7 linked regions of the Homo sapiens genome follow. The protein of the gene in region 5 purifies or fractionates together with the protein of the main gene of each other region. This does not show direct contact. Each region holds a gene or a part of one and is shown on either strand. Other genes may lie near its edges.

The links.
Region 1: the proteins of BZW2 (region 5) and ABHD12 purify together in Homo sapiens (co-immunoprecipitation; one large-scale study listed by IntAct). This does not show direct contact.
Region 2: the proteins of BZW2 (region 5) and NT5C3A purify together in Homo sapiens (affinity purification with mass spectrometry; 2 studies listed by BioGRID and IntAct, with this or other methods). This does not show direct contact.
Region 3: the proteins of BZW2 (region 5) and OMA1 purify together in Homo sapiens (affinity purification with mass spectrometry; 2 studies listed by BioGRID and IntAct, with this or other methods). This does not show direct contact.
Region 4: the proteins of BZW2 (region 5) and SCCPDH purify together in Homo sapiens (affinity purification with mass spectrometry; 2 studies listed by BioGRID and IntAct, with this or other methods). This does not show direct contact.
Region 6: the proteins of BZW2 (region 5) and P2RX4 purify together in Homo sapiens (co-immunoprecipitation; one large-scale study listed by IntAct). This does not show direct contact.
Region 7: the proteins of BZW2 (region 5) and CANT1 purify together in Homo sapiens (affinity purification with mass spectrometry; 2 studies listed by BioGRID and IntAct, with this or other methods). This does not show direct contact.

Annotation. Positions count from the first base shown.
Region 1 is NC_000020.11:25,384,336-25,387,835, reverse strand, and holds part of ABHD12 (lysophosphatidylserine lipase ABHD12), read left to right. Parts: intron 1-3,500.
Region 2 is NC_000007.14:33,052,777-33,056,276, reverse strand, and holds part of NT5C3A (cytosolic 5'-nucleotidase 3A), read left to right. Parts: intron 1-3,500. UniProt on the Homo sapiens protein: Nucleotidase which shows specific activity towards cytidine monophosphate (CMP) and 7-methylguanosine monophosphate (m(7)GMP). CMP seems to be the preferred substrate.
Region 3 is NC_000001.11:58,533,227-58,536,726, reverse strand, and holds part of OMA1 (metalloendopeptidase OMA1, mitochondrial precursor), read left to right. Parts: coding exon 1-214; intron 215-2,395; coding exon 2,396-2,569; intron 2,570-2,666; coding exon 2,667-2,774; intron 2,775-3,500. UniProt on the Homo sapiens protein: Metalloprotease that is part of the quality control system in the inner membrane of mitochondria. Activated in response to various mitochondrial stress, leading to the proteolytic cleavage of target proteins, such as OPA1, UQCC3 and DELE1.
Region 4 is NC_000001.11:246,734,409-246,737,908, forward strand, and holds part of SCCPDH (saccharopine dehydrogenase-like oxidoreductase), read left to right. Parts: intron 1-1,566; coding exon 1,567-1,647; intron 1,648-3,500.
Region 5 is NC_000007.14:16,652,681-16,656,180, forward strand, and holds part of BZW2 (eIF5-mimic protein 1), read left to right. Parts: intron 1-3,500. UniProt on the Homo sapiens protein: Translation initiation regulator which represses non-AUG initiated translation and repeat-associated non-AUG (RAN) initiated translation by acting as a competitive inhibitor of eukaryotic translation initiation factor 5 (EIF5) function.
Region 6 is NC_000012.12:121,216,629-121,220,128, forward strand, and holds part of P2RX4 (P2X purinoceptor 4), read left to right. Parts: intron 1-326; coding exon of another isoform or gene 327-374; intron 375-505; coding exon 506-653; intron 654-3,500. UniProt on the Homo sapiens protein: ATP-gated nonselective transmembrane cation channel permeable to potassium, sodium and calcium. CTP, but not GTP or UTP, functions as a weak affinity agonist for P2RX4.
Region 7 is NC_000017.11:79,003,265-79,006,764, reverse strand, and holds part of CANT1 (soluble calcium-activated nucleotidase 1), read left to right. Parts: intron 1-3,500.

The sequences.
Region 1 (3,500 bases), on a different chromosome or scaffold from region 5:
CTCGTGACCTCGTGATCCACCCACCTCGGCCTCCCAAATTGCTGGGATTACAGGCGTGAGCCACAGCGCCCGGCCTGGAATATTTTTAAACAATTTTTTTTTTAAGAAAGTTCCGTCACCCAGGCTGGAGCACAGTGGCATGATCATGGCCCACTGCAGCCCAGACCTCCTGGGCTCAGGCGATCCTCCCATATCGATGCTGGGTGTATGCCACCACTCCTGGTTAATTTTTTTTTTTTTTTTTTAATAGAGATGAAGTCTCACTATGTTGCCCCCAGGCTGGTCTTGAATTTCTGGCTTCAAGCGATCCTTCTTCCTGGCCTCCCAAAGTGTTAGGTATGAAATACCGTGCCAGGCCTAAATTCTCCTGCCTCAGCCTCCCGAGAAGGTGGGATTACAGGCATGTGCCACCACACATGGCTAATTTTTGTATTTTTTGTAGAGATGGGGTTTCACCATGTTGGCCAGACTGGTCTCCAACTCGTGACTTCAAGTGATCTCCCTGTCACGGCCTCCCAAAGTGTTGGGATTACAGGTGTGAGCCACCATGTCTGACCTCTTTTTCTTTTCTGATTGCATTGTATTTCTAGAACAAAGTTAAATAATAGGGATGACACTGAGTAACTTGTTTCATTCCTGACTTTAATGAGAATGCTGTTAGTGTTTTTGCCATTTAAGTGCCATGCTGGGGTGTGTTGCTAATGTTGTGGGGAGCTTTTTGTTTTTGTTCCTGCTCCCTCACTGATGTTTTTAAAATAAAAAATGGTGATTGAGTTTTCTCAAATGCCAGTGTACATCTGTGGAATGATCATAGAGATTTTCTTCTTTTATCTGTTAACATAATGAGTTATAGTAATGGATTTATATTATTGAATCATCATTGTATTCCTGGGATAAACTCTCTTATTGTATAGCCAGATTCTATTTATTCATTTATTTTTTATTTTTATTTTTTGAGGCGGGGTTTCACTCTGTTGCCCAGGCTGGAGTGCAGTGGCACGATCTCGGGTCACTGCAACTTCTGCCTCCCAGGTTCAAGCAATTCTCTGGCCTCAGCCTCCCGGGTAGCTGGGATTACAGGCACCTGCCACCATGCCCGGCTAATTTTTGTATTTTTAATGGAGACGGGATTTTGCCATGTTGACCAGGCTGGACTCGACCTACTGACCTCAGATAATCTGCCTGCCTCAGCCTCCCAAAATGCTGGGATTATAAGGCGTGAGCCACCGCACCTGGCCTATTTATTAATATTTTATTTTGAAATTTTACATCATGAGGCCGGGCTCGGTGGCTCACGCCTGTAATCCCAGCACTTTGGGAGGCCGAGGCAGGCTGATCACGAGGTCAGGAGATCGAGACCATCCTGGCTGACGGGTGAAACCCCGTCTCTACTAAAAAATACAAAAAAAATTAGCCAGGCGTGGTGGCGGGCGCCTGTAGTCCCAGCTACTCAGGAGGCTGAGGTAGGAGAATGGCATGAATCCGGGAGGTGGAGCTTGCAGCGAGCCCAGATTGCACCACTGCACTCCAGCCTGGGCGACAGAGCAAGACTCCATCTCAAAAAAAAAAAAAGAAAGAAAAAGAAATTTTACATCATTTGTGAGAATAGTCTGTAATTTTCTCTTATGCAACCTTTATCAAGTTGTTTTAGTGTTTTCTATAGCTTTGTAAAAAGTTTCTTACATAACATTTTATTCTAAACTTTTATTTTTATTATTATTATTATTATTTTTTTGAGACGGAGTCTCGCTGCATCACCCAGGCTGGAGTGCAGTGGCGCGATCTTGGCTCACTGCAAGCTTTGCCTCCCGGGTTCACGCCATTCTCCTGCCTCAGCCTCCCAAGTAGCTGGGACTACAGGTGCCCACCAACACACCTGGCTAATTTTTTGTATTTTTTTTAGTAGAGACGGGGTTTCACCGTGTTAGCCAGGATGGTCTCAATCTCCTGACCTCGTGATCCGCCTGCCTTGGACTCCGAAAGTGCTGGGATTACAGGTGTCAGCCACCGCACCCGGCCATTTTATTCTAAACTTTTAGCCAGCTTAAGAATTTTTTAAATTATTTGTTTAAAATTTGGTAGAAATTCTCTTGTAAAACTGTCTAAGCCTGGTGCCTTTCTATTTATTTATTTATTTATTTATTTAAATTTTTTGGTACAGGCAGGTCTTGCCACGTTGCCTAGGCTGGTCTTGAACTTCTCTCTCAAGCAGTCCTTCCACCTCTGTCCCCCAAAGTATTGGGATTATAGGCATGAGCCACCACCCTAGCCAGTGCTGTTTCAGAATATAGCACTTCGGTAACTACTACAGTGTCTTCTACGTCTGTTTAGAATTTGCTATGTCCTGGTTTCAGTTTTGGTGGTTTATGTATTCTTATAAAATTACCAATTTAATTCACCTTTTCTCCTCTGTAGCTATGGCCATTTCCCTAGTTTTCTTCCCTGTTTTTTGTAATTAGGGTTTTTCCTCCGTTTTCCTCTTTTTTTTTTTTTTTTTTTTTTTTGAGTCTCACTCTTGTTGTCCAGGTTGGAGTGCAATGGCATGATCTTGGCTCATTGCAACCTCCGCCTCCCAGTTTCAAGCGATTTTCCTGCCTCCGCCTCCCGAGTAGCTGGGATTACAGGTATGTGCCACCACACCCAGCTAATTTTGTATTTTTAGTAGAGACAGGGTTTCTCCATGTTGGTCAGGCTGGTCTCAAACTCCCAACCTCAGATGTTCCACCCGCCTTGGCCTCCCAAAGTGTTGGGATTACAGGCGTGAGCCACCGCGCCTGGCCTGCTTTTTCCTCCTGATTTAGGCTAGTCAGTAATATATCTAATATCCATACATACACTGAAGTGGGGAAATATATATACACACACACATACACACACACACATGTTTTGTGCTCCATCAAAGAAAATATCTCTTTTTAGTTCTGGGGGATGCTGAGAAGTGGAGAGAACAGGTTCTTTCTGAAGGGGACAGCAGCTACCACACCCTGTCCTGTTGCTGCCTGGCAGGAATGTGGTCCCAGAGTGGCCAGATTGTCCAGTCTTTCTGGAAAAGACTAGCTGGTGTTTTTTTTAGTTTGTTTTGTTTTGTGTTTGAGATCGGGTTTGGCTCTACACCCGGACTGGAGTGCTGCAGTGCAGTCATGGCTCACTGCAGCCTCTGCCTCTCAGGGTCAAATGGTCTTCGCACCTCAGCCTTACAAGTAGCTGGGACTACAGGCACCCACCACCATGCCTAGCTAATTTTTGTATTTTTTGTAGAGACAGAGTTTTGCCATGTTGCCCAGGCTGGACTTGAACTCCTGAGCTCAAGTGATCCACCCGCCTAAGCCTCCCAAAGTGCTGGGATTACAGGCATGAGCCAGTGCACCCGGCCTTTTGTTTGTTTATATAGTTTTTTTTTTGTCTTAGTGTGTGTGCTTGTGTGTGTGTGTGTAGTATTGCCAACTTTTTTAACATTGGTAAGTAACTCAGATGAGAACAATTTTGGAGGTTAAAAAAAA
Region 2 (3,500 bases), about 16 Mb from region 5:
TTTTGAATTCTTGATTTGTTTTGTAAAACATTTTCTCTGAATTCCTTTGGCATTTCCTGATGATTTCTCATAATTTAGCAATTTATACAGTGTCTCATATTGTTTATTATTATTTATGTTCCTTGAGGGTTGGAATGGGTGCTTTTCTTTTAGTCTTATTTATTTTTGAGACAAGGTCTCATTCTGTTGCCTGGGCTGGAATGCAATGACATGATGATAGCTCACTGTAGCCTCAAACTCCTGAGCTCAAGTATTCCTCCTGCCTCAGCCTCCCAGGTAGCTGGGAATATAGGCATGAGCCATTATGCCTGGCTAATTTTTTGTTTTCTGTAGAGACAAGACTTTGCTGTGTTGCCCAGGCTGGTCTCAAAATCCTGGGCTCAAGCAATCTTCCCACCTCAGCCTTCCAAAGTGCTGGGATTGCAGGCATGAGCCACCTGACTAGCTGGTCTCTTTAAAAATTAGTTGCACTTGACTAAGAGAAAGAGAGACCCCAAAACAGTGGCTTCAGTAAACAGTAAATTTTATTTTTCTAATGGAATGACAATTCCAAAAAACAGGCAGTTGCTTGTGTTAATTAGGGCCATAAGGATACCAAGGCATAGGTCTTTGACATTTCCCTTGTCTTTTCTTCATGGTCGTGAGATGGTCGTTCCAGTCATGGCCAATGCGTCCATGTTTCAGGCAGCAGAAAGGTGGAATCAGGGAAGAAAATACCTATTTCAGTCAAGCTGAATTTTCTGCTTACAGATAATTGGAGAGAACAAGGTTATATGGCTACCCTTATGTAAGTGAAGTTGAAGAATTGTTTTCTGATTGAGCACATTTGCCACCTTCCAACAAAAATGAGATATTATTAGTAAGAAAGAAAGGGAGAGAGTCCATTAATTGGTTACTTATAATACAGCAGTAGAGAACACAAACTCAGAACAGCTTCTGTCTTCTTTTTTTTTTTTTCCGACACCAAGTCTCGCTTTGTGCTGGAGCGCAGTAGCATGATCTCAGCTCACTGCAACCTCTGCCTCCCAGGTTCAAGCAATTCTCATGCCTCAGTCTCCCGAGTAGCTGGGACTATAGACAGGCACCACCACGCCCAGCTAATTTTTGTATTTTTAGGAGAGATGAGGTTTCTCCATATTTGCCAGGCTGGTCTTGAACTCCTGACCTCAGGTGATCCGCCCGCCTTGGCCTCCCAAAATGCTGGGATTACAGGTGTGAGCCACCATGCCCGATAGCATGTATCTTTTGTTTACCCCGAGTAAAGATATATTCATTCACACTTGAAATATCTAGATTTTAAGTAGCTCTCAACACATAGCCACCTCCTTTGTATGTCCTAGTGAGATGTGGAAGCTAATCTCCCAATTATGTGTCACAACTAGCTTCAAAACTATAGACCTAACAGTACTCCAAAATGAATGCAGATTGAGCATCCCTAATCTGAAAATCTGAAATCCAAAACTCTTCAAAATCTGAAGCTTTTTGAACGCTGACATGATGCCACACAAGTGGCTGAGATATTGACACCTTTGCTTTCTGATGGTTAAGAGTACACAAATTTGTTTTAGCCACAAAATTGTGTAAAATATTTTATAAAATTACTTTTAGGCCATGTATATAAGGTAGATGTGAAACATAAATGAATTTCATATTTAAACTTGGGCACCATCCCCAAGATATAATGTATGTGCAAATATTCCAAAATCCCAAAATACCCGAAATCTGGTCCCAAGCAGTTTGGGTAAAGGATACTCTCAACCTGTGTAAGGTTGTGAGACATAGCAACAAAAGGCTATGTGATAAAGAAACAGGAAATGACATTGCATAATGATTCATGGCTGTGGTGATGTTTGAAGGATAAAAATCATGATTGTTCCAGTTTGAAAAACAGAGAAATACATTAAATTCTTTTTTTTTTTTTTTGAGGCAGGGTCTTACTCTGCCACCCAGGCTGGAGTGCAGTGGCACCATCATGGCTCACTGCAGCTTTGACCTGCTTGACTCAAGTGATCCTCCTACTTCAGCCTCCCAGGTAGCTGGGACTACAGGTGCATGCCACCATGCCTGGCTTATTTTTGTATTTTTTGTAGAGATGGGGTTTTGCCATGTTGCCCACCTGGTCTCAAACTCCTGGCTTAAGCGATCCTCCTACCTCTACCTCCCAAAGTGCTGGGATTACAGACATGTGCCACCATGCCCAGCCCATTAAACTCAACATTATCAAAGGCTATATTCAAGATGATCTTGAATTCCCAAATTTGTAAACGTGGAAATGTTTGTACCAGGCATGTATGACTTTGTCCTTTCAAATCATGTTTGTCAGGTTTCCTGTAGATTATCCATATGCCACAAGTTAACCACATTTTCAACTTTAATGCAAAGTTGTTCTCTTATCTAGTGAGCTACTTGTATATTAGCTAGAAACAGCTCCTTCCTGAAACAGTTTTAGCTTTACAATTTTTTTTCTCTTTCCTTTTGTTGTGAATTCATTTACCTAACAGATGGAGTCCCCTTTGAACTGGATACTTAATTTTAAATTTATTCACAAATTTTTTTCTGACTAAAAGCCATTACTTCTTTCTTTCTTTCTTTCAGTCATTTATTTATTTATTTTAAGAAATGGGATCACAGTCTGTGAGCCAGGCTGGAGTGCAGTGGTACAATCATAGCTCATTGCAACCTCGACCTCCTGGGCTCAAACCGTCTTCCCCCCTCAGCCTCCCAAGTAGCTGGGATTACAGACATGTGCCACCATGCCTGACTAATTTTATTTTTAGAGACAGGGTCTTGTGGCTGGGCACGGTGGCTCACGCCTGTAATCCCAGCACTTTGGGAGGCCAAGGTGGGCAGATCTTGAGGTCAGGAGTTCTGGAGCAGCCTGGCCAACATGGTGAAACCCTGTCTCTACTAAAAATACAAAAATTAGCCAGGCGTGGTGGCACAAACCTGTAATCCCAGCTACTCAGGAGGCTGTGGCAGGAGAATTACTTGAACCCGGGAGGCAGAGGTTGCCGTGAGCCAAAATTACACCATTGCACTCCAGCTCTGGGCAACAGAGCAAGACTCTGTCTCGAAAAAAAACAAAAACAAAAACAGACAGTGTCTTGTTATGTTGCCCAGGCTCATTACATCTTTAGATCCTTTTACTTTCTTCACCTCGGTTACCAATACTAGCCATTGATTGGCGGGCAAGAGGTGGGCATTTTTTCCTACAATACAGCAATTTTTTACAACCTGGCTAAGGCTCCTAAGAGCTGGTTATATAAACCATGACAACTAGAGAAGGATGAAACCTTATTTTGAAATACAGGATCCCATATACTAGTGTTTTACACCAATGGTACTCAAAGAGTGGTCCCAGACCATGGCATCAACATTGAGCAGGAACTTGTTATATATGCGAGTTATCTAGTCCTACTCCAGACAAACAATCAGAAACTTTGAGGTTGGACCCAGCAGTCTGTTTTAACAAGCCTGCAGGTGATTGTGATGTGTGCTAA
Region 3 (3,500 bases), on a different chromosome or scaffold from region 5:
GTGGCAGGCACTTCCTCCTAACAAGAAGGAAGTAGTTAAAGAAAATATAAGGAAGAATAAATGGAAGCTATTCCTTGGTTTGAGTAGTTTTGGATTGCTCTTTGTGGTGTTTTATTTTACTCACCTGGAAGTAAGTCCAATCACAGGAAGGAGCAAGCTACTATTATTGGGGAAAGAACAGTTCAGACTTTTATCGGAACTGGAATATGAAGCAGTAAGTAGTAAGAGTTGTTTTTAATTAGACTGCTTAATATAACACTCAAAGTAGGAAAGTATCTTAAATGTGAAAGATATGTTGTTTTTTAATTTTAGTCTTTGATATGAAATTAGCATTTTTTTTTCCCGAAGGCCTCAGACCTTTCACACTTAGTATTCCTACTGCCTACATTGCTTTTCCTAGCATTCACCCAGCTAACTCCTGCTCAGCACATTTCACCTTAAATGTCACTTTTCTCAGGAAAACCTTCCTTGATTATCCAGACTGGGTTAGGCAGGGTGACTGGATCAGGCCCTAGGAGGTATCCTTCATACCGACTGAATTATGAACCAGCTCATTTGTAGTTGCGCCCATTGCTTGGCTTTACTGGGGTTAGGTCTCCTAGGCTTTTTTTCTCTGCATACTGTACTTTTCCTTCAAAGCACTCATGAGAGTAACATAATTATTTGCATAATTATTTTTTTGATTGTCTTTCTTGTTAGACTAAGCTTCATGGGGGCAGGGATCTTACCTGTTTTGTTTATGGTTTTAAATACTAACACAGTATGTAAGAGTAGAGCTTAGTATATATTTATTGAATAAATAGATTTATAGTCAGAATTCTTATACCTTGAAAATCAAGTAATATAAGATTTTTTTCCCAAACATCAGTTTTAGCAATTTATTATATTTTTTGAATCCAAATTTAAGTTATAATTTAGAAGTCTTACCTCTTTGGAAAGTATAGTAACTCAGGTAGTTAAACATTTTGTACCCTAGTGAGTTTCTTAGGGACAGAGGTCATTTTCTCTCCAGTTCATAGCACATACACATGTTATGTGCCCTGTGGCTCAATTAATATTTTTCGAATTCATGTCCAGTAGCCTCACTTGACAGCTTTGGCATGGCTGAATCTTTTTTTTTTTTTTTTTTTTGAGACAGAGACTTGCTCTGTCACCCAGGCTGTACTGCAGTGGTGCCATCTTGGCTCACTGCAACCTCCACCTTACAGGTTCAAATTATTCTCCTGCCTCAGCCTCCCGAGTAGCTGGGACTACAGGCGTGCGCCACCACGCCTGGCCAATTTTTGTATTTTTAGTAGAGATGGGGTTTCATCCGTGTTGGCCAGGATGGTCTTGATCTCCTGACCTCGTGATCTGCCCACCTCCTAAAGTGCTGGGATTACAGGCATGAGCCACCATGCCCAGCCGCTTGTTGATTCTTAAGTGAAAAAAAGCATACACTTTATGAAAGTTAAAGTAATATTTCAGAACATTTTTAATTTTCTCAGTACACTTGAAAGAGCTCTCATGAATATAACTTCAGAAAAAGTATCTTCTGTGGTGGCTAGTCTTAATCAGCATCTTTTAGAGACAGTGATAATGCTCATTAGTTCTGAGAATTCAGTAATTTCCTTTCAATCTGTGAGTAAAACACCTTAAAATTAATGAAATGTCTATTTTGGTAGTTTAACTTTCTTATTAGGTATAGGGTGTTTTTCTGTTCAATGCATTGTGAATTTAATTTTCTTTTGTATTTTACTTAGATGAAATCTTAAGTTCTCCAGGCTCTCCTTTTCTTTTCTTTTTGAGATGGGATCTCCCTCTGTCACCCAGGTTGGTGTTGGAGTGCAGTGGCGAGATCTCAGCTCACTGCAACCTCCACCTCCTAGACTCAAGCGATCCTCCCACTTCAGCCTCCCATGTAGCTGGGAACACAGGTGCATGCCACCACGCCTGGCTAATTTTTTGTGTTTTCGGTAGAGACGGGGTTTCACCATGTTGCCCAGGCTGGTCTTGAACTTCTGAGCTGAGGTGATCCTCCTGCCTTGGCCTCCCCTAGTTCTGGGATTACAGGCGTGAGCCATCTTGCCCTGGCCTAGGCAGTGTTTTCTAAAATGTTTAGGAAAGTAGAAATAATACTTAAGTATTCGTTTGTAGTTTAATCGAAAAGAATGAAATTTTGATGTCAATCTATTCATAAAAAAACTTAGTATTAGAATTTATTCCTTTGTAAGAAACCACATTGTCTTTGCATGAATAATTCAGATTTGAGAAATTTCAGTGCTTAATATATGCAGATTTTTATATAATTAAAACTTAAAATGTTCAATAATAAGTAGCCATATAACTTTCCATGAAGCAGAGTAAGCATTTTGTAGTGCTCTTTTAAAATAAGAAGTAATTTTTAATCTTTCAGTGGATGGAAGAATTTAAAAATGATATGCTAACTGAGAAAGATGCCCGATACCTGGCTGTTAAAGAAGTGCTTTGTCATCTAATTGAATGCAATAAAGATGTTCCAGGGATCTCTCAGATCAATTGGGTTATTCATGTGGTTGATTCCCCAATTATTAATGCCTTCGTGCTTCCAGTAAGTAAATGTTCTCAAACGCATTGTAATTGTTAAATTTATTGTCCTTATTTTTTATGATGTTCTAATTGCTTACATTATTTTCTTTGTGGTGCAGAATGGACAAATGTTTGTTTTCACTGGATTTTTAAATAGTGTAACCGATATTCATCAACTTTCTTTCCTTCTGGGCCATGAAATAGCACATGCAGTACTTGGGCATGCTGTAAGTACCTAAAATGAATGTTCAGGTTTGGAAAAACTGCTTTGAAGTTAACAAGTTAAATCTTTTAAAGAACTGATTTTTTTCAGGTTTTTTAAAAATGATAGACTTTTAGTTTTGGGTAATTGCCTTAATCTGCTACCTGAAAAAAACGTGATTGGCTAATTTTGAGAATTTTTATGGTCTTTAGTATTTGATACTGAATAATATTTTTCTTAAATACTATTTTTATCACCTGTCTCTTTTGCTAAAACGTAATTATTCTCAACCCCTAATTATTTCAAATTAAATTTTAAACTTTCTATAATTATTAATATACTTGTAATCTAGTCAGAAAATTAATTGTAGGGAAGTGATATTACTATTTAAGTGGGTAAATCATCTTTCTTTTTTATTCATTCTCAGAGGATAGCTTGGAGCATCTTTGAAAATGTCTAGAATGATGTGTCATGTGTAATTAATACAGAGTAATAACAATACCTTGCCATTTTACAGTTTACTGAGCTTTTTAGTATATGTGGCTTCCCATTCATAATTTTAATACCCAATGAGGTATGTATTTATTATTACTATTTTATATAAGAGAAAACTAATGTTTAGAAAAACAGTAACATGACTAACCTGACAAAGTAACCGAACTGGGACTTTAACGTGGGTCTTCTGTATGTTAGTCCAGTGTTTCTTCCTTTCACTACAGTTACCTGGTTTTTAGCAGCGCTTTTCTTATAG
Region 4 (3,500 bases), on a different chromosome or scaffold from region 5:
CATATAGTTAGTAGGTGATGGATTCCAGGTGTGAACTTGGGTCTTACTGCCTTGAAATCCTTTGTTCCATGATACCATACTGCCTCAGAAGTAGAGTTCTTCATTAATTTCATGTGGTTTGTTAATGGGAGGGTAGGAACTCGAATTTCACACACTTCTCCCAGTCCTGTAATTCCAGTGTTATCCGCCATTCTTAGTAAGAGGTGTGAGGTCTTGGAGTTAGGTAAGAGGGCAGCCCATCTGACCTATTTGTAAAGGTCGATTGTGTCTTTTAAGTGTCCCTTGTTCCTCAAAGGCTGGAAGAAAGAAACGATTTCCTTGTTCCATCTTTTGCTGCCAGGAATGAATAAAGCAGAGGAGTTTGTGCTTCTAATCTACTTCTTCACAAAGGAAAAGATTTGTCATGCTTCTTTGGAAATGGGACTGAATTCTGATGTATTAGCTTTTACATATGAAAATTTGTATTTTAATTCCTTGAGTTTGAATAACAGATAATATGGGAAATCTAATATCATACAGGCTCAGAATATCTGCTCTGTTCAGTATCAAACTTATCCTTTGCAAACTCTCTTCTTCCTGTTGGTTTGTTTTTAATTTTGACCAATAATACCACTGGTTCTTGGCCCCCATGTCCAGCCCAGCTAGTCAGGAAATCCAGTCATTTCCACCTTTTTAGTATTGTATGTCTCATCTTTAGTATATCGTCTGTGCTATAAGTCTTATACCACTATCCTGTTTAAAATTCTTCTGGAAAGCCAAGTAAACTAGAAAGGATAAAGTTGAAACTTGTTAGCATGGCACATGTGGTCCTTCCTGATGTGGCCGTAGCCTGCCTTTTCAGACCCATCTCTTTCTACTTCCTACTCAAGTGAATTTGATTCCTGCTTCAAGCAACAGGAACAGCTCCTTTTTCTTAACCTCTGCATTTACTTTTTCCTGTATCTGGATTTTTCTTTTTCCTGGAAAATTTTTATTTGTTCTTTAGGGTTCAACTCAAGGGAATCACTTGTATGAAACTTTTCCTTTTGTCTTCAGGTAGAGGTAAGCATACATTGCTCTGTAATTCCATCATGCCTTTATTTATTCACACTGTGAGAGATGGTATTGTGCAGGTATCTTCTCAGTTTATCTTTTTGTTTCTGAGACGGAGTCTCACTCTGTCGCCCAGGCTGGAGTGCAGTGGCACGATCTTGGCTCACTGTAATCTCCACCTTCCAGGTTCAAACCATTCTCCTGCCTCAGCCTCCCGAGTAGCTGGGATTACAGGTGTGTGCCACCACGCCCGGCTAATTTTTGTATTTTTAGTCGAGATGGGGTTTCACCATGTTGGCCAGGCTGGTCTTGAACTCCTGACCTCAAGTGATCTACCTGCCTCGGCCTCCCAAAGTTCTGGGATTACAGGTGTGAGCCACTGTGCCTGGCCACTTTCTGAATTTATCTTTAGGCTATTTTATTAACAGTTGATTTCTTGATAACTAGGACTGTTTACTTCCAGGATTAGATGGCATTTTATTCATTTAAACTTGTCAAGCAAGAATAACCTCTTTGTTCTTTTTGTTTCCCTAGTATCGGTTTTATGGAGAACCTGTAATAAAAGCATGTATTGAAAATGGAGCCAGTTGTATCGACATCAGTGGAGAACCTCAGGTATAAAAAATAAAAAGGAAAAACGTAGAATTAACACATAAATTTCGGTTTAATGAAGTGGAAATATTTAGTGTAATTTTGCAGACATATTTAGAAGCCGACAACTCCTTTCTAGCATTCAGATATGGTATTCGTGTGGTATTCCATTGATAGCTCAAAGGAGAGCGCTGATGGTAAGGTCTTAGCTTCAGTTTTCTGAATTTTTTCCCTCCCTACAACATCATTTCTTATAGGTCTGTGCTTATTATAGCTACTTCATGCTTTAAACTGAATCAATTAAAATAGCGGACTGTGCATAATTCTTAGAATCTCAATTCTGTCATGTTTTCATTTTGAATTCCCTTTTAAAAATCAGGTACCTTTAGGCCGGGCACGGTGGCTCACACCTGCACTCCCAGCACTTTGGGAGGCCAAGGCGGGCAGATCATGAGGTCAGGAGATCGAGACCATCCTGGCCAACACGGTGAAACCCCATGTCTACTAAAAATACAAAAAGTGAGCCGGGCATGGTGGCGGGCACCTGTCATCCCAGCTTCTTGGGAGGCTGAGGTGGGAGAATGGGGTGAACCTAGGAGGTGGAGCTTGCAGTGAGCCGAGATCACTCCACTGCACTCCAGCCTGCGCCACAGAGCGAGAGCGAGACTCTGTCTCAAAAAAAAAAAGAAAATTCAGTTACCTTTATAACATTACAGAAAAATAAAGGTAAAATTCACTAGTGTAAAATCAACCTAAACATTTTAAATGTTCACATTTATTGAATGCTTACCATATGCCCAACATTGTGCTAAGTGTTTTATGTAACTTTTTAAAAATATACCTATAGGGTAGTTATCTTCCTCCATTTTTTGTAGATGAGGAAATTAAAGCTTAGGAAGCTTAAGTAACTCACTCAGTAATGCACCTAGTAATGCACCTAGTAATGCACCTAGTAAGTAGAAGAACTAGGTCTTCAATTGAGGTTTGCCTGACCACAGGAAGTTATGTGTTAACAGGCATTAAGCTCTACTACAGCCTTTAAAATGGTAACCTCATGTGTCTCTGTAGTAACTACTGATTATCATCATCAGCATGCCAATATGATATTAATATGCATTTGCAGTTTATCAATTGGTAAAATACTGGAAAATACTGAGACAGTGTAAATTACAAAAATTGATTCAAAAAGGAGGAAACAAATTAAAAAAAAAAAAAAGCCCAGGCGAGGTGGCTCACGCCTGTTACCCCAGCACTTTGGGAGGCTAGGTGGGAGGATGACTTGAGCTGGTGAGTTAACAAATTAGCCAGGAGTTGGTAGCACACACCTGTGGTCCCACCTACTCAGGAGAATGAGACAGGAATATCACTTGAGCCTGGGAGGTCAAGGCTGCAATGAGCTATGATCATGCCACTGCACTCCAGCCTGGGCAACATAGTGAGACCCTGTCTCCAAAAAACAAAAACAAAAAACAATTCCCATGTTATTTTAAATAACCCAGAACATAGAAAATGGTGAAAAGCTTTTAAGTCATCTAGAAACTATCATAAAAGTAGTATCGAACCCCCCCCTTTTTTTTTGATACAGGGTCTCTCTCTCTCACCCAGGCTGGAGTGCAGTGCTACGATCTTGGCTCACTGTAACCTCTGCCACCTGGGTTCAAGCGATTCTCCTGCCTCAACCTCCTGAGTAGCTGGGGGTACAGGTGCACACCACCACACCTGACTAATTTTTGTATTTTTAGTAGTGACAGGGTTTCACCGTGTTGGCCAGCTTGGTCTTGAACTCCTGGCCTCAAGTGATCCACCTGCATCGGCCTCCCAGAATGCTGGGATTACAGGCATGAGCCACCACGCCCAGCCATAATATCAAAACCTAA
Region 5 (3,500 bases):
TGCCTGGCTAATTTTTGTATTTTTAGTACAGACGGGGTTTCACCATGTTGGCCAGGCTGGTTTCGAACACCTGACCTCAGGTGATTCGCCCGCCTTGGCTTCCCAAAGTGCTGGGATTACAGGCATGAGCCACCATACCTGGCTTAAACCTTTTTAAAATGTATGATTCAGAGAGCTTGTAGCTCTGTACTAGTTCTTTTTTATTTCCTTTAATTCAATTTTGTATGGTCCACTTCTGTAAAGTTGTGTTGGGGAATCCAGTCCCATGTCATCAGCGTGCCCTAGACTAGGCTTGGCATTTCTATCCAGTTCATGCTCTCATTATGTAATAAGCATGCATATGGAAAGTAACTTTGTGTGTGTGTGTGTGTGTGTGTAGCCCTTCAAATAAAGCTTCACCTGCTAGACAGGCTTGGGCAGGTCCCCTTCTGGGAGGATGGGAGTTTCTTGGTTGAGAGAACTAGTAAGTGAGCCAATATTTGGACTCATGCCCACCACCACCTTTGAGCTTCCTGAAGGTCCACTATTACGATTTTTAAGCAATTGCTCCAAAACAGAATTCTCTCACTGTCTACCAGTCTAGGCCTTACTTTTCTTTTTATTTCTTTTTTTTCTGAAGATTTTATTTTCCTCTTTTCCATGATTAAAAATCCTCTGAAGAGAGGCAAACACTTCAACACTCTTTTACTTTAATAACTTGTCTTCTGACTTCCCACTGGAGTAATAGTCACCAACACTCCCATCAGTTTTGTGTCTGTCTTAAACTAACTTGCTCTCTGGCATTGCCACTCCACTTCTTGCTGATTTTCATCTCCTGGTTCTCCTCACCTCAGTTAGCAAGGCCAGTGTTGTGTGTGCTGTCCATAGCTCCTTTCCTCTAGGTGGAAAGTAAATCTCATATAAAATCATCTTTCTCCTCTACTATGTAAAGCTCAACATGTATTTAGGTATCTTCCAGTGAAAAAGCACTTTTCTGGAGGAAGGAACATTGGAGATGAGAATACTCATTAATAATAAATATTACTTTTGTCTTCAGTGGAGGTGAAAATCTCGAATGCATAGGCATTTTCTAAAAGGTTACATAGGATGATGTTAAAGGGTTTAAATTATTATCATCTCCATGGAGTGGGGCTAGGATATAAGGTCAAGAGTGAAAGATTGGGAAGAGCACTACCCTTCTGTACTGTGTTGGGGTTTTTTGTTTGTTTGATTTTGTTTTGTTTTTGCCATCAGTGTGTTATTACTTTAAAGTTTTAAATCACTAGTTAAAATAATATAGAGACTGGCTGGGCATGGTGACTCATGCCTGTAATCCCATCGCTTTGGGTGGCCAAGGTGGGCAGATCACTTGAGGCCAGGAGTTCGAGACCAGCCTGGCCAACATGGCAAAACCCCATCTCTACAAAAAAAAAAAAAAAAAAAAAAAAAAAATACAAAAATTAATTACTTGGGAGACTGAGGCACGAGAATCCAAGGGAGGCAGAGTTTGCAGTGAGCTGAGATTGTGCCACTACACTCCAGCCTGGGTGACAGAGTAAGACTCTGTCTCAAAAAGTAATAATAATAATATAGAGACCATCTTGCTTTTTTCTAAGCTTAAAATTATAATATTATTAACAAATTTCAAGGACATTTCCTTCTCTATAAGAGTTTCTGCTTTTCCTAAAGTGATGCAATGGAACAGATGACTTTTAAAATAAAGATTCAGAGAATATCACTGAATCAAGTTATATAACTCCAAGTCCAAATGCAAATCATTTTTAAATTGTATTTTAGCATAATATGAGAAAAGATGGTAGAATTTAATTTTAATTTTTTTCTGTATATAACCCCCCCCCCCCAAAAAAAAACGGATGATATTTATTTATTTATGAGACGGAGTCTTGCTCTGTCAGCCAGGCTGTGATACAGTGGCATGATCTTGGCTCACTGCAACCTCTGCCTCCAGGGTTCAAGTGATTCTCATGCCTCAGCCTCCCAAGTAGCTGGGGTTACAGGCGTGCAACACCATGCCTGGCTAATTGTTTTTTTTTTTTTTAGTGGATACACGGTTTCACCATGTTGCCCAGGCTTGTCTCAAACTCCTGACCTCAGGTGATCCGCCTGCCTCAGCCTCCCAAAGTGCTGGGATTACAGGCATAAGCCACCGTGCCCAGCCTGTATACTATACTGTGTTTAAGTGTGAACAGTGGTCATTACTGAAAGTTAGACTGATAGATTTTTTCTAATTTTTCCTTAAATATTCTATAATATACATGATGAGCTGACCTTATAATCAGTGATTTTTAAAGGTTACCTCTCACTTTCAAATAAAGATGCTGTTGTTTCTCAGCTTAATCACCTACTTTTTTGCTTCTGTTCAGTATTTTGTCATAAAAACCTGGTTGGACACACCAGATAGCTTCAAAGTGGCCACCTACTTTTTTCAATGGATTAGACTCTGAATGATCTCTGGCGACTTTCTAAAATTAAATCCTCTATCAAACAAGGAAATTTCTCATCATTGAGTATAGTCAAAAGAATGATCTGTAGACTCCAGAGGAAATTCTAAAAAAAGTTTCATAAATCTATTAATTAAAAGGGGTTTTGTTTAATGGAAGCATTATTAGTTCATAGTTTTTCTTTATTGAAGGAAGAAATTACTTTGATGGGTAAATGCTGGAAAATGTTTTTTTAAATTACTTAAGTTACTATGTAACATTTTTGTTTTTAACTGACATATAGTAATTTTTCATATGTGGGGTACAGTGTGGTGTTTCCATATACATATACATTGTGTAATAATTAAATCAGGGTGATTAGCATATTCATTACATTGAACACTCATCATTTCTTTCTGGTAAGAACAATCAAAATCCTTTCTTCTAGCTCTTTTGTAGTATATGATACATTATTGTTAACTATAATAACTCTATTGTGCAATAGAACACTAGAGCTTATTCTTCCTAACTGTAACTCTGTACCTGTTCACCAATCTTTCCCCATCCCCACCTCACTCCTATTCTCCTGTCTCCAGGAAACTACTATTCTACTCTCTACTTCTGTGATACCAACTTTTTTAGATTCTACATGAGTGAGATCATATGATATTTGCCTCCCAAAGTGCTGGGATTACAGATCGGAGCCACCATGCCATGCCCTAAAATACATATGGCTTCCTGTGTTTGCCATTGCTCCAGGGTTCTATGTGTACATAATCAGTTTTATTTCTTAATCATTTGAGAGTAGGTTGCATACACTTTCTGCCTTTATCTCTTATTTCTTCAGTATTTATTCTGTAAAAATAAGATACTTTTCTTACAGAACCACAGTGCAAAAAAAAATTCAGTAAATTTTAACATAGATACCATAATTTTATCTTTATACTCCAACTTCTTAGGTTGTCTCAATAGTCATATATATGTGTGTGTGTGTGTATGTATATATACATATATATGTGTGTATATATATAAATGACTATATATATATATACATAAATATTTTTTCCCAGTACAGCATTC
Region 6 (3,500 bases), on a different chromosome or scaffold from region 5:
TGGCCAACATGGTGAAACCCCGTCTCTACTAAAAATACAAAATTAGCCAGGCGTGTTGGCGCATGCCTGTAATCCCAGCTACTTGGGAAGCTGAGGCAGGAGAATTGCCTGAACCCGGGAGGCGGAGGTTGCAGTGAGCCAAGATCACACCATTGCACTCCAGCTTAGGCAACAAGAGCGAAACATCGTCTCAAAAAAAAAAAAAGAGAAAATGCTCAAATGTAATAAAGACAGTATTCATCGAGCGTTTTCTCTGTGCCATCAGTGTGCTGAGTGCTTTACCTGCACCATCTCATTTATTTCCCGCAAACCCTCCTGTGGTTTAGGTGCTACCATCCCCATTTGGCAGAAGTGGAAATGGAGTCCCCTAGAAGGTACGTAGCTTGTAGAAAGTCATGTAATTAGTCAACATCGTACTTCCAGCCACTGGCCAGCAGAAGCTTCCCCATCAATTCAAATCCATTGAATCCTAATGGCAATTTAAGAGGCCTGTTTTATTTTATAGGTGGGTGTTTGTGTGGGAAAAGGGCTACCAGGAAACTGACTCCGTGGTCAGCTCCGTTACGACCAAGGTCAAGGGCGTGGCTGTGACCAACACTTCTAAACTTGGATTCCGGATCTGGGATGTGGCGGATTATGTGATACCAGCTCAGGTGTGTCTCCCACTGTGTCTTCTGTCTAACACTGACACCTTGCTCTTTACTGACTTTGCACACTTGATTAATGATTGACGTGGCCTGAGTCCTGACATCACCAATGCCCAGAATGATTGTTTTAGTCCAAGAAAACGGTGCAGCCAGATCTCTTTTCAGCTTAGGATCTAACAGAGTGTATCCAGGCAGCTGTGGTTCCTCAGCTTGAAAGCATGGCAGGCTGAAAGCCCTGAAAGATGAGAAAACAAATGTCTTAAATCCTGATAGAAATTCAAGTGGAAATATCACCTTTCCACATTTTGGGTTTGCATTATTGTCCCAAATACACGAGGTAAATCTTTTCAGACAGTGTAAAAACTTTAGGCCGGGCACAGTAGCTCACGTGTGTAATCCCAGCACTTTGGGAGGCTGGGGCGGGCAGATACCTTGAGCCCAGGAGTTTGAGACCAGCCTGGGCAATGTGGTGAAACCCCATCTCTATAAAAAAAAAAAAAAAGAAAAAAAAAGAAAAGAATTAGAGACCATTAGAGACCAAAACCCAAACAAGAAGGAAACAGAGACAGCAGCACAGGACTCCATCGGGAGCGAAAGGAAGGGAAGACATTGTTTACTGCTGCATACTAGTCTTCAGGCTGTTAATCTGCAAAGCTCCAAGTTAAACATTGACTCTTTAGTCCTGGTAACAGCTCTGCACCACACAGTCAAACCCGACATAGCCCTCCAGATGGCCTATGTGCTAAGGGACCGAGGGCGACCAGTAGAGATAAGCTGCCAACTCTTGGCTCAGAGCTCTTGCCAGGGAAAACAAGAACTCCAGAAACTCTTTCTTCAGGTGTGTTCTTCCCCCTGCCTTCTCAAGAGAAGGGTCTTGTGGGGTCCCCAGAGAGGAGACCGAGCTAATGAGCCATAAAAGTCAGGAGGAAGGGCCAGGTGCGGTGGCTCATGCCTGTAATCCCAGCACTTTGGGAGGCCGAGGTCGGTGTATCATGAGGTCAAGAGATTGAGACCATCCTGGCTAACATGGTGAAACCCTGTCTACTAAAAATACAAAAATTAGTGGGGTGTGGTGGTGGGTGCCTGTAGTCCCAGCTACTAGGGAGGCTGAGGCAGGAGAATCTCTTGAACCTGGGAGGCGGAGGTTGTAGTGAGCCGAGATAGTGCCACTGCACTCCAGCCTGGTGACAGAGCAAGACTCCGTCTCAAAAAAAAAGATCAAGTGGAACAGGGGATTTGCAGTTGGCTGGAGGGGGCAGTCCTGTTAGCATGTACCTGTCTCAGCAGAGAGACGGTTGCCTCCTGTGCAGGCATAGCCTTGTCCCGGTGAGCTCTGGGAATGTCATGCTCGGTGTGTTTACTGGGCAGATGAGGAAGGGCACAAGCCCCGCTTTTGTCCCTTGGTGGAAAGGAGCACCCCACAACTCAGCCTTCCGTGGTGGATCTGGGCGGGGGCCGTGTGAGTTCCCCAGGGCTTTCCTCATGAGCTTTCACGACGTCTGTGTTCTTTGTAGATGGAACACAGTCATCTATTTGCAGCCCCTTGGCTCATCTCCAGACTGAAATTACCCTTAATTTGAAGTAGATAAGTGATAGGAAACAGGCCAGATGTGGTGGTTCATGCCTGTAATCTCAACACTTTTGGAGGCCGAGGCAGAAGGATCACTTGAGCCCAGGAGTTTGAGGCTGAAGTGAACTGTGATCACGCCACTGCACTCCAGCTAGGGCAACAGAGCAAGACCCCAACTCTAAAAGAGAGAGAAAGAAGGAGAGATAGGAAACGAAAAGTAGACCATACTGGATTGTTCCAAGTATAACTCAGGAGAGTCGTAGGAGCGGCCTTCTCTAACACCAAATGCAGAGTGTGTTTGTACATTGAACACCTGGGAACGTGACAGGTGGCGGGAGAGAGGCTGCAGCTCATGCCACATCCTCACGCCTCCTCCTGTGGCCTTCTCCTTGTCTCCCAACATAGTTTGCCCTAGGCCTTTGGAGGACGCCAGCTATTTCTAGAGCTTCCACCACTTGTCAGACCGTGGGGTTGGGGATGTCTACAGACTGGTTGGTTTCTGAGTTGCCCTGATCCCCAAGATGGCTCCCACTACTGACTGTTATCCTCAGGAGTGTGAAATGCTAAAAGCTTTGGGCATCTCCTTTTAAAATGCCTGGGCCCAGCCAGGCGCAGTGGCTTACGCCTGTAGTCCCAGCACTTTTGGAGGCCAAGGCAGGAGGATCACTTGAGCTCAGGATTCAAGACCAGCCTGGGCAATATAGTGAGACCCCATCTTGATTGGATGGGTGGTGGATGGATGGATGGATGGATGGATGGATGGATGGATGGATAGATAGATAGATAGATAGATAGATAGATAGATAGATAGATGGAAAGAAAGAAAGAATAGATAAATGATAGGATAGGAGAAAGAAAGGGAAAGAAAGAAAAGAGAAGAGAAAAGAAAGAAAAGGGATAGGATAGATGACAGATGATAGGATAGATTAGATAGGTGATAGATAATCGATAAATAGAAAACAGATGATAGATATAGGATAGATTAGATAGATAGATAGATAGATAGATAGATAGATAGACAGATAATAGATAGATTAGATTAGATGGATGGACACCAGCCCCCAATGAGAGGAGGATCCAACTAGAATCTTTTGGGGTCTTTGCCTTTTATTCCTTATATGAGGAGGTCATTATCAGCAATTCTTCAGTCTCATCCCTAGCAAATTGCTTTCCAGAAACTCTAAATCAATTATTTGGCACCTTTATACATATAAGGAGGAAACAGAACCTTTTCAAAGAGAAATGTCACTTGCTGACCCTGACCGAGTCTTCTCTAGAATGTT
Region 7 (3,500 bases), on a different chromosome or scaffold from region 5:
GTTATTTTCACACACTCTGGAAAAGGACACCTTCCCAGATGTGTGGTGCCATTTGGAATGTGCCTTTCAACTGAGAAGGTCGCCTTTTGGCTAAAATTCCTCCAGGTGTAACATCGATGATACAAATTAAGCAGACACAGCCTCTTTACAAGGCAGTAACTGCAAACCGTAGAGGGTTCTGAAGCTGTGCGCCCACACCATAGACAGTGACTGGTCCTGGCCCTTGGAAAAACCTGGAGGCTCTTTCCCCTCTTCCTCCTGTGATTGGTGGAGGAACAGCTCCCCGAGATGTCCACGTCCTACCTTCTGAGCCTGTGAATATGTTACATTACATGGCAAAGGGGAATTAAGGTTGCTGATCAGCCGGCCTTAAAGTAGTGAGATGATCCTGGATTTTCCCAGGGAGCCCAGTGTAATCACAGGGTCCTTAAGAACAGAAGAGGGAAGCAGAAGAGCCGGAGGGAGATGATGGCCAAGAGCCTTGGGGAAGTGCAGTGGGCGGGCTTTGGAGGGGGAGGAGGGGCCACCAGGCAGGGAATGTGGGTGCCTCCAGAAGCTGGAAGAGGCATGAGAATGGAGCCATGGCCCGTGTGAGGCTTCTGTCCCACAGGACGGTGCCTGCTGCCTGCCGTGTGCTGGATACTAGGGGCGGGGACAGGTGCAGAAGTCAGTCAGATCCTGAGCTTGACCTTTAAGGAGCGTGCTGTCTGTGGAGGCAGGATGGCCTAACCAGACTCCCTGTGACCTTCTTCCTTTCTGGTTTCCTTGTACTGCCCACCCCCGAGGAGATTTGCCGTGGAATTTGCAGGTACAATAGTTAGCCTTGCAAGTGCCAAAGCAGGAATCAGGTAACGTTTTCAAGGAGTCTGGCCCATAGCAGGCATTAATAAGTGTTTCTTTGAGATGCGCCACCCGTGTTCTCTCAGGCGCTGTTAGCATGAGTGTGTGAAGGCCTTGGCTTCTGCCTTGGCTGTGCTGAAGAGTCTGTAGGTCAGTGGGGTTTGCTCTTTACCATGGCAGTGAACACAGTGGGCACTCTGAGGCCTGCCTGCCTGCTCTCTGGGTGTGGGAAGGGAAAGGAAGGTAGCTCTTCTCCAGAGATAAGGGGTTGGCGCACCTGCCACCTGCCTACCCGTCCCTTCCAAGGAGGTGGGGGCTAGGATGTGGCGGCCTCTTAACAGGATGATGTGGCTTCCTGCCCTGCCTGGATCCTGAAAGGGAGGAGCCTGGCAGCCCTCAGTAAACCTGCTGGTTCTGCCACCTGTCCTATTCCACTCCTGCAGGAAGCTGGAGAAACAAACCCTCTTGGCTGTCTGCTGTCCAGGGAGTCGCCACTCCCTTCATTATAGCCTTGCTCAGAGTGCAGCGGCAGGCCTGGGGATGGCCTCGGGAGGTAGGTGGCCCCTGAGCCCTTCTCCTGGGAAAGGGCAGCAGCAGGGAGACGCCTCCTGGGTGTGCACAGAGAAAAGCACAGTTTCCCTAACTCCCCGCTCCCTAACTCCTCGCTCTTTAACTCTCACCTCCCTAACTCCCCCCTCCCTAACTCCCTTCTCCCTAACTCCCCTCTCCCTAACTCCCTTCCCTAACTCCCCTCTCCTTAACTCCTCTCCCTAACTCCCCCCTCCCTAAATCCCCTCTCCCTAACTCCCTTCTCCCTAACCCCCCTCTCCCTAACTCCCCTCCCTAACTCCCCCTTCCCTAACCCCCCTCTCCCTAGCTCCCCTCTCCCTAACTCCCTTCTCCCTAACTCCCCTCCCTAACTCCCCTCTCCCTAACCCCCCTCTCCCTAACTCCCATCTCCCTAACTCCCCCCTCCCTAACTCCTTGCTCCATAACTCCCCCCCAGCTCCCCTCTCCCTAACTCCCCTCCCTAACTCCCCTCTCCTTAACTCCTCTCCCTAACTCCCCCCTCCCTAAATCCCCTCTCCCTAACTCCCCTCCCTAACTCCCCTCCCTAACTCCCCCTTCCCTAACCCCCCTCTCCCTAGCTCCCCTCTCCCTAACTCCCTTCTCCCTAACTCCCCTCCCTAACTCCCCTCTCCCTAACCCCCCTCTCCCTAACTCCCATCTCCCTAACTCCCCCCTCCCTAACTCCTTGCTCCATAACTCCCCCCCAGCTCCCCTCTCCCTAACTCCCCTCTCCCTAACTCCCCTCCCTAACTCCCCTCTCCTTAACTCCTCTCCCTAACTCCCCCCTCCCTAACTCCCCTCTCCCTAACTCCCCTCCCTAACTCCCTTCTCCCTAACCCCCCTCTCCCTAACTCCCCCCTCCCTAACTCCCCTCTCCCTAACTCCCCTCCCTAACTCCCCTCTCCTTAACTCCTCTCCCTAACTCCCCCCTCCCTAACTCCCCTCTCCCTAACTCCCCTCCCTAACTCCCTTCTCCCTAACCCCCCTCTCCCTAACCCCCCTCTCCCTAACTCCCCTCCCTAACCTCCCTCTCCCTAACTCCCCTCTCCCTAACTCCCCTCCCTAACTCCCCCCTCCCTAACTCCTCTCCCTAACTGTCCTCTCCCTAGCTCCCCTCTCCCTAACTCTCCTCTCCCTAACTCCCCTCCCTAACCTCCCTCTCCCTAACTCCCCTCTCCCTAACCCCCCTCTCCCTAACACCCCTCCCTAACTCCCCCCCAACTCCTCTCCCTAACTCCCCTCTCCCTAACTCCCCTCCCTAACTCCCCTCCCTAACTCCCCTCTCCCTAACTCCCCCTCCCTAACTCCCCACTCACTAACTCCCCTCTCCCTAACTCCCCTCTTCCTAACTCCCCTCCCCAATTCCCCCCTCCCTAACTCCCCCCCAACTCCCTACTCCCTAACTCCCCGCTCCCTAACTCCCAGCTCCCTCACTGGTGGCTCCCCTGCGCTCTGGGAGTGTCCTGTGGGATGGACAGATGCCTCCGTGGTGCCTTGCAAGCCTTGCAGGTGGTTATTCCTCCTGTGAGTGCTCCTGTGAGTGCTCTCCAGGCAGCAGCAGGGGTCCTGTCCCTGTAGGCCCCTGAGTCTGGGAGATAGCTGGTTTGCAGCCCCACTGAACAGGAGAGCCTGGCTGGCCACAGAACCCATGACTTTGCTGTAGTCCCTGAGTCCTCTTGTTGCTGATTATCTAAAATCAAACCATTACTCTGCAGGCACTGGGTTTGTCAATCTTTTCACAATAAAGCGAGCATTTAAACTGCTTAAGCTTTGAGGGGTGTAGGGAGAAGCCTCACACGAGCCCCTTCTGGAAAGGACTTTGTCCATCTTGTGTCTTACCCTCGCCGGTTCATTTCTGTTGTTTCTGGCTGGCAACAAACAAAAGAGCCCCCCCACCCCCCACCCCCGAAAAAGAACCCAGCTTTTTAAAGAACATGCAAACTCTTGCCTGCAGCAGGCGCCGGCAGCCAGGCACCCCGGCAGCCAGTGGTAGCTCATACACCAGCATGGGCTGTGGCAAAGGCATCTGATTTGAAATTTTTTTGCAAAATAAAATAATTCCTTGGGGTCCTGAAGGAGAGATGAAGCCC